Regions from separate parts of the Homo sapiens genome. Here region 1 is linked to region 2. The links come from fine-mapping of genetic effects on gene expression. Tissue or cell type: whole blood. Region 2 holds a variant in brackets; the other region holds the start of a gene. All regions are shown on one strand. Distances are from middle to middle.

The links. PIP is the estimated chance that this variant, and not a neighbour inherited with it, causes the effect.
Region 1: it holds the start of NDUFB6, and the variant in region 2 is the best candidate, but not a certain one, in a credible set for the expression of NDUFB6 in whole blood (INTERVAL, PIP 0.83).

The regions. Positions count from the first base shown.
Region 1 is chr9:32,570,885-32,576,105 of GRCh38, reverse strand. It overlaps NDUFB6 (NADH:ubiquinone oxidoreductase subunit B6), which reads left to right and starts at 2,947. Exons shown (of 4, transcript NM_002493.5): 1 at 2,947-3,225; 2 at 5,054-5,146. The coding sequence starts at 3,046. RefSeq lists enhancers at 2,540-2,589, 2,860-3,399.
Region 2 is chr9:32,507,804-32,513,024 of GRCh38, reverse strand. All of the region lies in intron 1 of RIGI (RNA sensor RIG-I), which reads left to right. Among named protein-coding and RNA genes, the nearest start is that of RIGI, 16 kb to the left of the region's middle. RefSeq lists enhancers at 3,510-4,226, 4,227-4,945. The variant C/T (reference allele first, on the strand shown) is at 2,095.

The sequences.
Region 1 (5,221 bases), 63 kb before region 2:
TCACAACCTAAGAACAAAAGATGCTCATGATTATTGGTTTGCCAATTTCTTTTAGGCCATTATCAACAGGTAGAGCTAAGACAAAATTATATACATTTTTAAAGATAAAATACAATATGAGTTCATACTGATTCTTCCTGTTCACAATTTGACTATAGGATTTTTACTTAAACACATACAATTTATATACATGTCTCCCCATACCAAAAAAGATCAGTTTTTACAACACTCACGTAAACAGTTATTTTCAGTGTCAGATTAACAATACCATGATCAACACCACTATCCTCAATATGATTATTTAAAACAGTTTAAGATTTTTTTTTTTTTTTTTTGAGACGGAGCCTCTCTCTGTCACCCAGGCTGGAGTGCAGTGGCGCGATCTCGGCTCACTGCAAGCTCCGCCTCCCAGGTTCATGCCATTCTCCTGCCTCAGCCTCCCGAGTAGCTAGGACTACAGGCGCCTGCCACCACACCTGGCTAATTTTTGTATTTTTAGTAGAGACGGGGTTTCACTGTGTTAGCTAGGAAGGTCTCGATCTCCTGACCTTGTGATCCACCCGCCTTGGCCTCCCAAAGTGCTGGGATTACAGGCGTGAGCCACCACGCCTGGCCAAGATTTTTTTTAAGTTGTTTTTTTTTTGTTTGTTTTTGCGGGTTGTCTCTCAGTGGATTTACAATAATTCAATGGTTTAAAGTTATAGTTGATCCTTGAAAAAAACAGGTTGAACTTCGAGGGTCCATCATACGTGGATTTTCTTCTGCCTCTGGCACCCCAAGACAGCAAGACCAACCCCTCTCTTTGCCTCCTTATGATTTTCTTAATAACAGTTTATTTTCTCTGGCTTACTTTATTGTAATAATATAGCATATAATACATATACAAAATGTGTGTTAATTGACTGTATGTTATCAGTAAAACTTCTGGTCAAGAGTAGGCTATTAAGTTTTTGGAGAGTCCAAAGTTATATGTGGATGTTTGATTGTGCCAAGTGGAGGGGATTGGCACTACTAACCCTAGCGTTGTTACAAGGGCTATTGTATTTAGAATGATGTGTACCTTTGAGATTATGCCACCAAGTGGACCAATTAAGAGCTACTGGTTTTTACTTGATTTTTATGGACTGCTTTTTGTAAATTTAATTTTGTTTTGTAATGATATTGTTAAAATTAAAACTTTAGAAAAATTAAATTTAGCAGAAATTAATTGAGCAATGACCAATTTGAGAATCAGGCAGCCCTCAGAACCAGAGGAGGTTCAGAAAGTATCGTTCCACAAAGAGGCCAGGCAGCACGCATAGAAAAAAAACAGAAATGAGATACAGAAACAGCTTGATTGGCTACAGGTTGGCCTTTGCCTTATTTGAACATGGGCTGATCAGTTGACCACCTGTGATGATTGGCTGAGACTCAGTTATTTGTTACAGAAGTATATTCCTAAGTTAGGCTGTGAGTTAAATTGCATACTAAGTTGGGTTGCAGTTCATTATATAAGGACTCAAAATACGGAGACATCTTTAAGCTAAATTTAATTTCACAATATGAAATATTTACTTGGTTCTAAAGTCAAATTTATGAAGTAAGATGTTTCCAGAGATGTCTAGATTCTATCCCTGTCTCCTCTATCCTATTTATTTCCTCCACCATAGGTAGCATCTTTAAAAACCTCAATTGTTTTCATTCCCATTATTTTGAAAATTTAAGAAAATATGTATATATATTGAAATTACCACCATCTTTCTCTTTTTGGGTAAAAGCATACTGTACAAATTCCTATCCATTTTTTTTCCACTTTGTAATGTATTCTGGAGATCACACCACAGATGTATATAGAGTTCTTCCTTATTACTTTTGACGATTGTATTAGCATTTCATTGCTTTGTTGTGTGAAAGTTTTTGGGAAGCCACTGTTTTGGACTAGCTTCACGCACTAGGCCCCAGCAGACCAGACCAAACCAGAATGGAGTCGTTTGTGCTAAGTACCACACAATCAAACTGAACTTTGAAATGGGCCAGTTTCCCAAAAAATAGGAAATTCCCTTAAGTCTGAGTCAGTGAAACAAGGAAGTTTCTTCTGCTTTAACCCTAAAAGTAACTTTGAAACGATGAGTCCACTTTTTGTTCGGTTTCTGCTTTCTTCAGCCCCTATTTGCCAATAAAACCAACCGCCTCTGCTCAGCTGATCAGAACACTCATTCTACTTTATAGAATGAGGTGTTTTTTGATTCTAGAATCACGAATAAGAGTCAATTAAGATTTTTAAACTAATTCGTTGTAATGCTGTCTTTTGACTGTTGTACTACAATTTATTCAAGCAGTCCTTTATTTAGGAATTTGGGGGTAATTTCCAATATTTTGGTATTATGAATCGTGCTGAATAGTCGTGCATGCTCTTTCATATTTTCACCACACGTATTTTTGGGTGAAAGCATGAATTCATCTATGCAATTTTGCTAGATATTAAGCTACTCTTTTCACTATTCCTGTACAGATGGAGGGACAGATGAGACAGCTGCCCAGGGCACTTCAGCAGTTACTGGCATAGCTGGGATTTGAACTGGGATGTAACTATTTTCATACACTCTCTAGGTCATTCCAAGGTGGGAGAGGCAAGCAAATAATTTTGAATCTGGCCAGCATATTCACTGAAACATTTATGCTTATCCTTCCTCCTCCCAGCATACAAGTTCTTCCTTAGCAAAACCTCCAGTCCTCTAATTTAGCATACTTTCGTCTAATCTGTCACTTTCCTCAGGCCCCACAACTACGAGTACTCCTTGTCCCCACCCGGTCCTAATTTGGTCGGGTATAGCGGAGGTGGGCGTAGAGAGAACTGGAGGTGGAGACCTTTGTGCATGCCCACACACTGCTTTCCTCGCGAGGAATCTGGGGCCCTTGCAGAGGCGGAACCAGGATGTGACGTAATAACCGCGCGCGGCGCTCGGCGTTCCCGCAAGGTCGCTTTGCAGAGCGGGAGCGCGCTTAAGTAACTAGTCCGTAGTTCGAGGGTGCGCCGTGTCCTTTTGCGTTGGTACCAGCGGCGACATGACGGGGTACACTCCGGATGAGAAACTGCGGCTGCAGCAGCTGCGAGAGCTGAGAAGGCGATGGCTGAAGGACCAGGAGCTGAGCCCTCGGGAGCCGGTGCTGCCCCCACAGAAGATGGGGCCTATGGAGAAATTCTGGAATAAATTTTTGGAGAATAAATCCCCTTGGAGGAAAATGGTGAGTGACAGACCTCTCCGGTCCCCCCCAACACATCCCACTGCTGCCGGCAGCCTGAACACTGAACGTCCGCTCCCTGCAGCCACACCAAGGACTGATAACGCTCAGTGCTCTGGGACACTGGCCAGTCCCGAGAGTCCTCCTGGAGTCTCGGGAGGCAGGAGTCCAGGAATATGTATGGCTTTGAGAGAATCATGCCTTTTACTGTCAAGTACAGTGGACGGGGGCGAATTTTAATACTTAGGTTTTCCAGGACGCTGCACGTTTGGTTCTCTTTTGACTGTAGAAATCTTCCCTCAGAATAATAACCAAGGACTCGCTAGAATTAAAATTCTGTGATTTAAGTATTTGAGGACACTTGTCTGACTTTTAAGTGTGAGGTTCTAGAGACCAAGTAACACAGTATCCAACCACCAGAGGGCACAGCCAGCCCCTAGCTGATAGTACAGCCCCATGTGATCCCCGTAAAAGACAGGGTCCTGTTGGTATGCCTTGTGAGTCACATTCAAGAGCTACCTTTCTAAACTACCGTTCTGTACTTTTAACACAGTGTTTCATTAAAAAAATCGCATTTTGGGCTTTGAAGAAAATCACTCATTCAAGAACTTTATTTTCAAGGCCTCTGGGTATTTTCTTGAGGACTGTTATGGATGATAAACATCTCAGAATTGCTTTCAGTTACCTGCAACACTTACTGATGACAGGATAATAGTAGTAACAATACTACGTAACACACGGGTGCTTGCTGTGTGCTTGGCACTCTACTGGGGGTTTTACATGTGTTACTTCATTTCTTTATTCCTGTAAGGTAGATATTCCTAATCCTCATTTTAAATGTGAAGAAACTGAGGCCTACAAAGCTTCAGTGATTTGCTGGTGGTCAGGGAGCTAGGAATTGAATATGAGTTCATATTGTAATCAACATGTATCTGATTCTTACTGTGCTACAAAGTCTAGTGCAATAGAATTGTTGAAAATTTTTCTGAGAAAGTGATATTGGATACTTATTTATGGTGGTAAAATTCAACTCTTCTCCCACCCTTTGTATCCCTGACATTATCGGAATATTGGCAGTCACTGATTTAAAGTTGACATCCCATCCATCAGCAAGTGATATAAGGAAGTAAATAAATAATAATGTGTCGAAGTTCACCTTACCTTACTTTAATTTATTCTTTTATAATCATATCTGTTATAATTCTTAGATTCTGGATTGTCCCTTCCTTGAATGGATAGGTGTTTTTTAATCAAGTTGGAAGACATGGGAAAGTTCCATTTTTAGTTCTTTTTTAAAATAGTGTTGCAGAGGGCATTTTGGAGTGAGTTTGGGACACCCCATCTTAGTATGTAAAACGTCCTTTTTCCAGCATTGGCGTTGTCAAGGTTGTCTGCCTTATACCTAAAATGATGTGAGTGTCATTGATCAATAAATAAGGGAGATGACTATACCTGAAAAATTCTGTAGGTTTGATTACTCTGGTTAAATACATTAAAATTATTCTTTCATTATTTTGCTATATTTTATCTTTAACAAACTTATAATAAGGATATTTTTGGAAGTCTTTAAAAAATCTATAAATGCCTTGTTATAGTCTTGCAAAATACTGCTTAAGCATTTTGGTCTGGACTTTGTAGGTATCTTCTAGCAGACTCTGCATTTACTAAGAATATTTGAGTAGATGAGGTTACCTACAGACTATAAGAAAATATGTGCCATTTAGAGTTTTGTAAAATAGTCATGGCATTGTTACATCATTGATGCCTTTTGTTCTGCCATAAATATAAAAAATGGGATATGTTTATTTTGTGTATGTGTTTTTCCCCCCAGGTCCATGGGGTATACAAAAAGAGTATCTTTGTTTTCACTCATGTACTTGTACCTGTCTGGATTATTCATTATTACATGAAGTATCATGTTTCTGTAAGTATGTCCTTTTCAGAATTCATTTTTAATATTGTCCAAAATTACTTTCTTTGTGGCTATCTTACCCTACTT
Region 2 (5,221 bases):
CCTTCACATCCCTTGTAAGTTGGATTCCTAGGTATTTTATTCTTTTTGTAGTAATTGTGAATGGGAGTTCACTCATGATTTGGCTCTCTGTTTGTCTGTTATTGGTGTATAGGAATGCTTGTGATTTTTGCACATTGATTTTGTATCCTGAGACTTTGCTGAAGTTGCTTATCAGCTTAAGGAGATTTTGGGCTGAGATGATGGGGTTTTCTAGATATACAATCATGTCATCTGCCAACAGGGACAATTGGACTTTCTGTTTTCCTAATTGAATACCCTTTATTTCTTTCTCTTGCCTAATTGCTCTGGCCAGAACTTCCAACAGTATGTTGAATAGGAGTGGGGAGAGAGGGCATCTTTGTCTTGTGCTGGTTTTCAAAGGAAATGCTTCCAACTTTTGCCCATTCAGTATGATATTGGCTGTGGGTTTGTCATAAATAGCTCTTTATTATTCTGAGATACATTCCATCAATACCTAGTTTATTGAGAGTTTTTAGCATGAAGGGCTGTTGAATTTTATCAACGGCGTTTTCTGCATCTATTGAGATAATCATGTGGTTTTTGTCATTAGTTCTGTTTATGTGATGGATTACATTTATTGATTTGTATATGTTGAACCAGCCTTGTATCCCAGGGATGAAGCAGACCTGATTATGGTGAATAAGCTTTTTGATATGCTGCTGGATTCAGTTTGCCAGTATTTTATTGAGGATTTTTGCATCAATGTTCATCAGGAATATTGGCCTGAAATTTTCTTTTTTGGTTTTGCCTCTGCCAGGTTTTGGTATCAGGGTGATGTTGGCCTCATAAAATGAGTTAGGGAGGAGTCCCTCTTTTTCTATTGTTGGGAATAGTTTCAGAAGGAATGGTATAAGCTCCTCTTTGTACCTCTGGTAGAATTCAGCTGTGAATCCATCTGGTCCTGGGCTTTTTTTGGTTGGTAGGCCATTACTGCCACAACTTGTTATTGGTCTCTTCAGGGATTTGACTTCTTCCTGGTTTAGTCTTGGAGGGTATATGTGTCTAGGAATTTATCCATTTCTTCTAGATTTTCTAGTGTATTTGTGTAGAGGTGTTTATAGTATTCTGTGATGGTAGTTTGTATTTCTGTGGGATCACTGGTGACATCCCCTTTATTATTTTTATTGTATCTATTTGAGTCATCTCTCTCTTCTTCTTTATTAAACTGGCTTGTGGTCTATATATTTGTTAATCTTTTCAAAAAACCAGCTCCTGGATTCACTGATTTTTTTGAAGGGTTTTCTGTGTCTCTATCTCCTTCAGTTCTGCTCTGATCTTAGTTATTTCTTGTCTTTTGCTAGCTTTTGAATTTGTTTGCTCTTGCTTCTCTGGTTCTTTTAATTGTGATATTATGATGTTGATTTTAGATCTTTCCCTCTTTCTCCTGTGGGCATTTAGTGCTATAAATTTCCATCTACACACTGCTTTAAATGTGTCCCAGAGATTCTGGTACGTTGTGTCTTTGTTCTCATTGGTTTCAAAGAACTTATTTATTTCTGCCTTCATTTCATATTTACCCTGTAGTCATTCAGGAGCAGGTTGTTCAGTTTCCATGTAGTTGTGCAGTTTTGAGTGAGTTTCTTAATCCTCAGTTCTAATTTGATTGCACTGTGTTCTGACAGACTGTTATGATTTCCGTTCTTTTGCATTTGCTGAGGAGTGTTTTATTTCCTATTATGTGGTCAATTTTAGAATAAGTATGATGTGGTGCTGAGAAGAATGTATATTCTATTCATCTGGGGTGGAGAGTTCTGTAGATGTCTACTAGGTCAGCTTTGTCCAGAGCTGAGTTCAAGTCCTGAATATTCTTGTTAATTTTCTGTTTTGTTGATCTATTATTGACAGTGGGGTGTTAAAGTCTCCCACTATTATTGTGTGGGAGTCTAAGTCTCTTTGTAGGTCTGTAAGAACTTGCTTTATGAATCTGGGTATTCCTGTATTGGGTGCATATGTATTTAGCATAGTTAGCTCTTCTTGTTGCATTGATCCCTTTACTATTATATAATGCCCTTCTTTCTCTTTTTTGATCTTTGTTGGTTTAAAATCTGTTTTATCAGAGACTGGGATTGCAAC[C/T]CCTGCTTTTTTTTTTTCTTTCCATTTGCTTGGTAAATCTTCCTCCATCCCTGTATTTTGAGCCTATGTGTGTCTTTACATGTGAGATGGGTCTCCTGAATACAGCACACCAATGGGTCTTGACTCTTTATCCAATTTGCCAGTCTGTGTCTTTTAATTGGGGCATTTAGCCCATTCACACTTAAGGTTAATATTGTTATGTGTGAATTTGATCCTGTCATTATGATGCTAGCTGGTTATTTTGCCTGTTAGTTGATGCAGTTTCTTCATAGTGTCGATGGTCTTTACAATTTGGTATGTTTTTGCAGTGGCTGGTACCAGTTTTCCTTTCCATATTTAGTGCTTCCTTCAGGAGCTCTTGTAAGGCAGGCCTGGTGGTGACAAAATCTCTCAGCATTTGCTTGTCTGTAAAGGATTTTATTTCTTCTTTGCTTATAAATCTTAGTTTGGCTGTATATGAAATTCTGGGTTGAAAATTCTTGTCTTTAAGAATGTTGAATATTGGCCCCCACTCTCTTCTGGCTTGTAGGGTTTCTACAGAGAGATCTGCTGTTAGTCTGATGGGCTTCCCTTTGTGAGTAACTCAACCTTTCTCTCTGGCTGCACCTAACATTTTTCCTCCATTTCAACCTTGGTGAATCTGATGATTATGTGTCTTGGGGTTGTTCTTCTCGAGGAGTATCTTTGTGGTGTTCTCTGTATTTCCTGAATTTGAATGTTGGCCTGTATTGCTAGGTTGGGGACGTTCTCCTGGATAACATCCTGACGAGAGTTTTCCAACTTGGTTCCATTCTCCCCGTCACTTTCGGGTACACCAATCAAACATAGGTTTGGTCTTTTCACATAGTCCCATATTTCTTGGAAGCTTTGTTCATTCCTTTTCATTCTTTTTTTCTCTAATCTTGTCTTCATGCTTTATTTCATTAAATTCATCTTCAATCTCTGATATCCTTTCTTCTGCTTGATTGATTCAGCTATTGATAGTTGTGTATGCTTCACAAAGTTCTCGTGCTGTGTTTTTTGGCTACATCAGGTCATTCAGGTCCTTCTCTAAACTGGTTATTCTAGTTGTCACTCCTCTAACCTTTTTTCAAGGTTTGTAGCTTCCTTGCATTGGGTTAGAACATGCTCCTTTAGCTCAGAGGAGTTTCTTATTACCCACCTTCTGAAGCCTACTTCTGTCAATTTGTCAAACTCATTCTCCGTCCAGTTTTGTTCCGTTGCTGGCAAGGAGTTGTGATCCTTTGGAGGAGAAGAGGATCACATTTTTTTTCTGCCTTTTTGCACTGGCGTTTCCTCATCTTCATGGATTTATCTGCCCTTGGTCTTTCATGTTGGTGACCTTCAGATGAGTTATCTGTGTGGATGTCCTTTTCGTTGATATTGATGATATTCCTGTTTGTTAGTTTTCCTTCTAACAGGCCCCTCAGCTGCAGGTCTGCTGGAGTTTGCTGGATGTCCACTCCAGACCCTGTTTGCCTGGGTATCACCAGTGGAGGCTGCAGAACAGCAAAGATTGCTGCCTGTTCCTTCCTTTGGAAGCTTCCTCCCAGAGGGGCACCTGCCAGATGCCAGCTGGAGCTCTCCTGTATGAGGTGTCTGTTGACCCTGGTAGGAGGTGTCTCCCCACCAGGAGGCACAGGTATCAGGGACCCACTTAAGGAGGCAGTCTGTCCGTTAGCAGAGCTCAAGCACTGTGCTGGGAGATCTGTTGCTCTCTTCAGAGCCAGCAGGCAGCAACATTTAAGTCTGCTGAAGCTGTGCCCACAGCTGCCCTTTTCCCCAGGTGCCCTCTCCCAGGGAAATGGGAGTTTTATCTGTAAGCCCCTGAGTGGGGCTGCTGGCTTTTTTTCAGAGATGCCCTGCCTAGAGTGAGGAATCTAGAGAGGCAGTCTAGCTATAGTGGCTTTGCCAAGCTGCAGTAGGGTCTACCCAGTTTGAACTTCCTGGTGGCTTTGTTTACACTGTGAGGGGAATAGGGCCTACTCAAGCCTCAGTAATTGTGGATGCCCCTCCCCCAACCAAGCTTGAGCATCCCAGGTCAACTTCAGATTGTTGTGCTGGCAGCGAGAATTTCAAGCTAGTGGATTTTAGCTTGCTGGGCTCTGTAGGGGTGGGATTTGCTGTGCTAGACCACTTGGCTCCCTGGCTTCAGCCCCCTTTCCAGGAGAGTGAATGGTTCTGTCTTGCTGGCATTCCAGGTGTCACTGAGGTATGAAAAAAAAAACTGCAGCTAGCTCAGTGTCTGCCCAAATGGCCACCCAGATTTGTGCTTGAAACCCAGATCCCTGGTGGCATAGGCACCGGAGGGAATCTCCTGGTCTGCTGGTTGCGAAGACTTGGGGGGAAAAGCATAGTATCTGGGCCAGGGTGCACTGTTCCTCATGGCACAGTCCCTCATGGCTTCCCTTGGCTAGGGGAGGGAGTTCCCAGACCCCTTGTGCTTCCCAGGTGAGGTGACACCCTACCCTGCTTCAGCTCGCTGTCTGTGGGCTGCACCCACTGTCTATCCAGTCCCAGTGAGGTGAACCGGGTACCTCTGTTGGAAATGCAGAAATCACCCGCCTTCTGTGTTGATCTCTCTGTGAGCTGCAGACCGGAGCTGTTCCTTTTTTGGCCATCTTGCCCTGGTTCCTAGTCAAGCATTTTTTAAGAGAGGATTTTCATATAGTAAAAAAAAAAAAAAAAAAATTAAGTAAATACTTTGGTTTAAAATTTTAGATTGAGTCTGTTAGGAGCTAGGGAAAATTATGATAAATAAGAGTTAAATCCCTTGCCTCAAAAGGGGGAGACTTAAAATATTACCATTTTCCACTTGCTTCTGTAGTTTTAAAAAGCTATATGAATGGTTACAGATAATGATACCATTTAAATGAGGTTTTATATGTTTTGTTGTTCTTGAGAGGAGAAAAGAAACTAGTAATTTAAGCTAACCAGAAAATATAGGAAAGGGAAATATAAACAAGATAACACAAGGAAAACTAGTTATATCAGCTATGGCCATGTAATTAGGTCAAACATCTTTTAAATAGGTGTGAATGAGTCAGAAAGCAGAATCCAGGTTTTGGTCATCTGCCAGAGACCCATGTAAAGTCTAATAACATAAAAAATAAAAATGGGGGCCAGA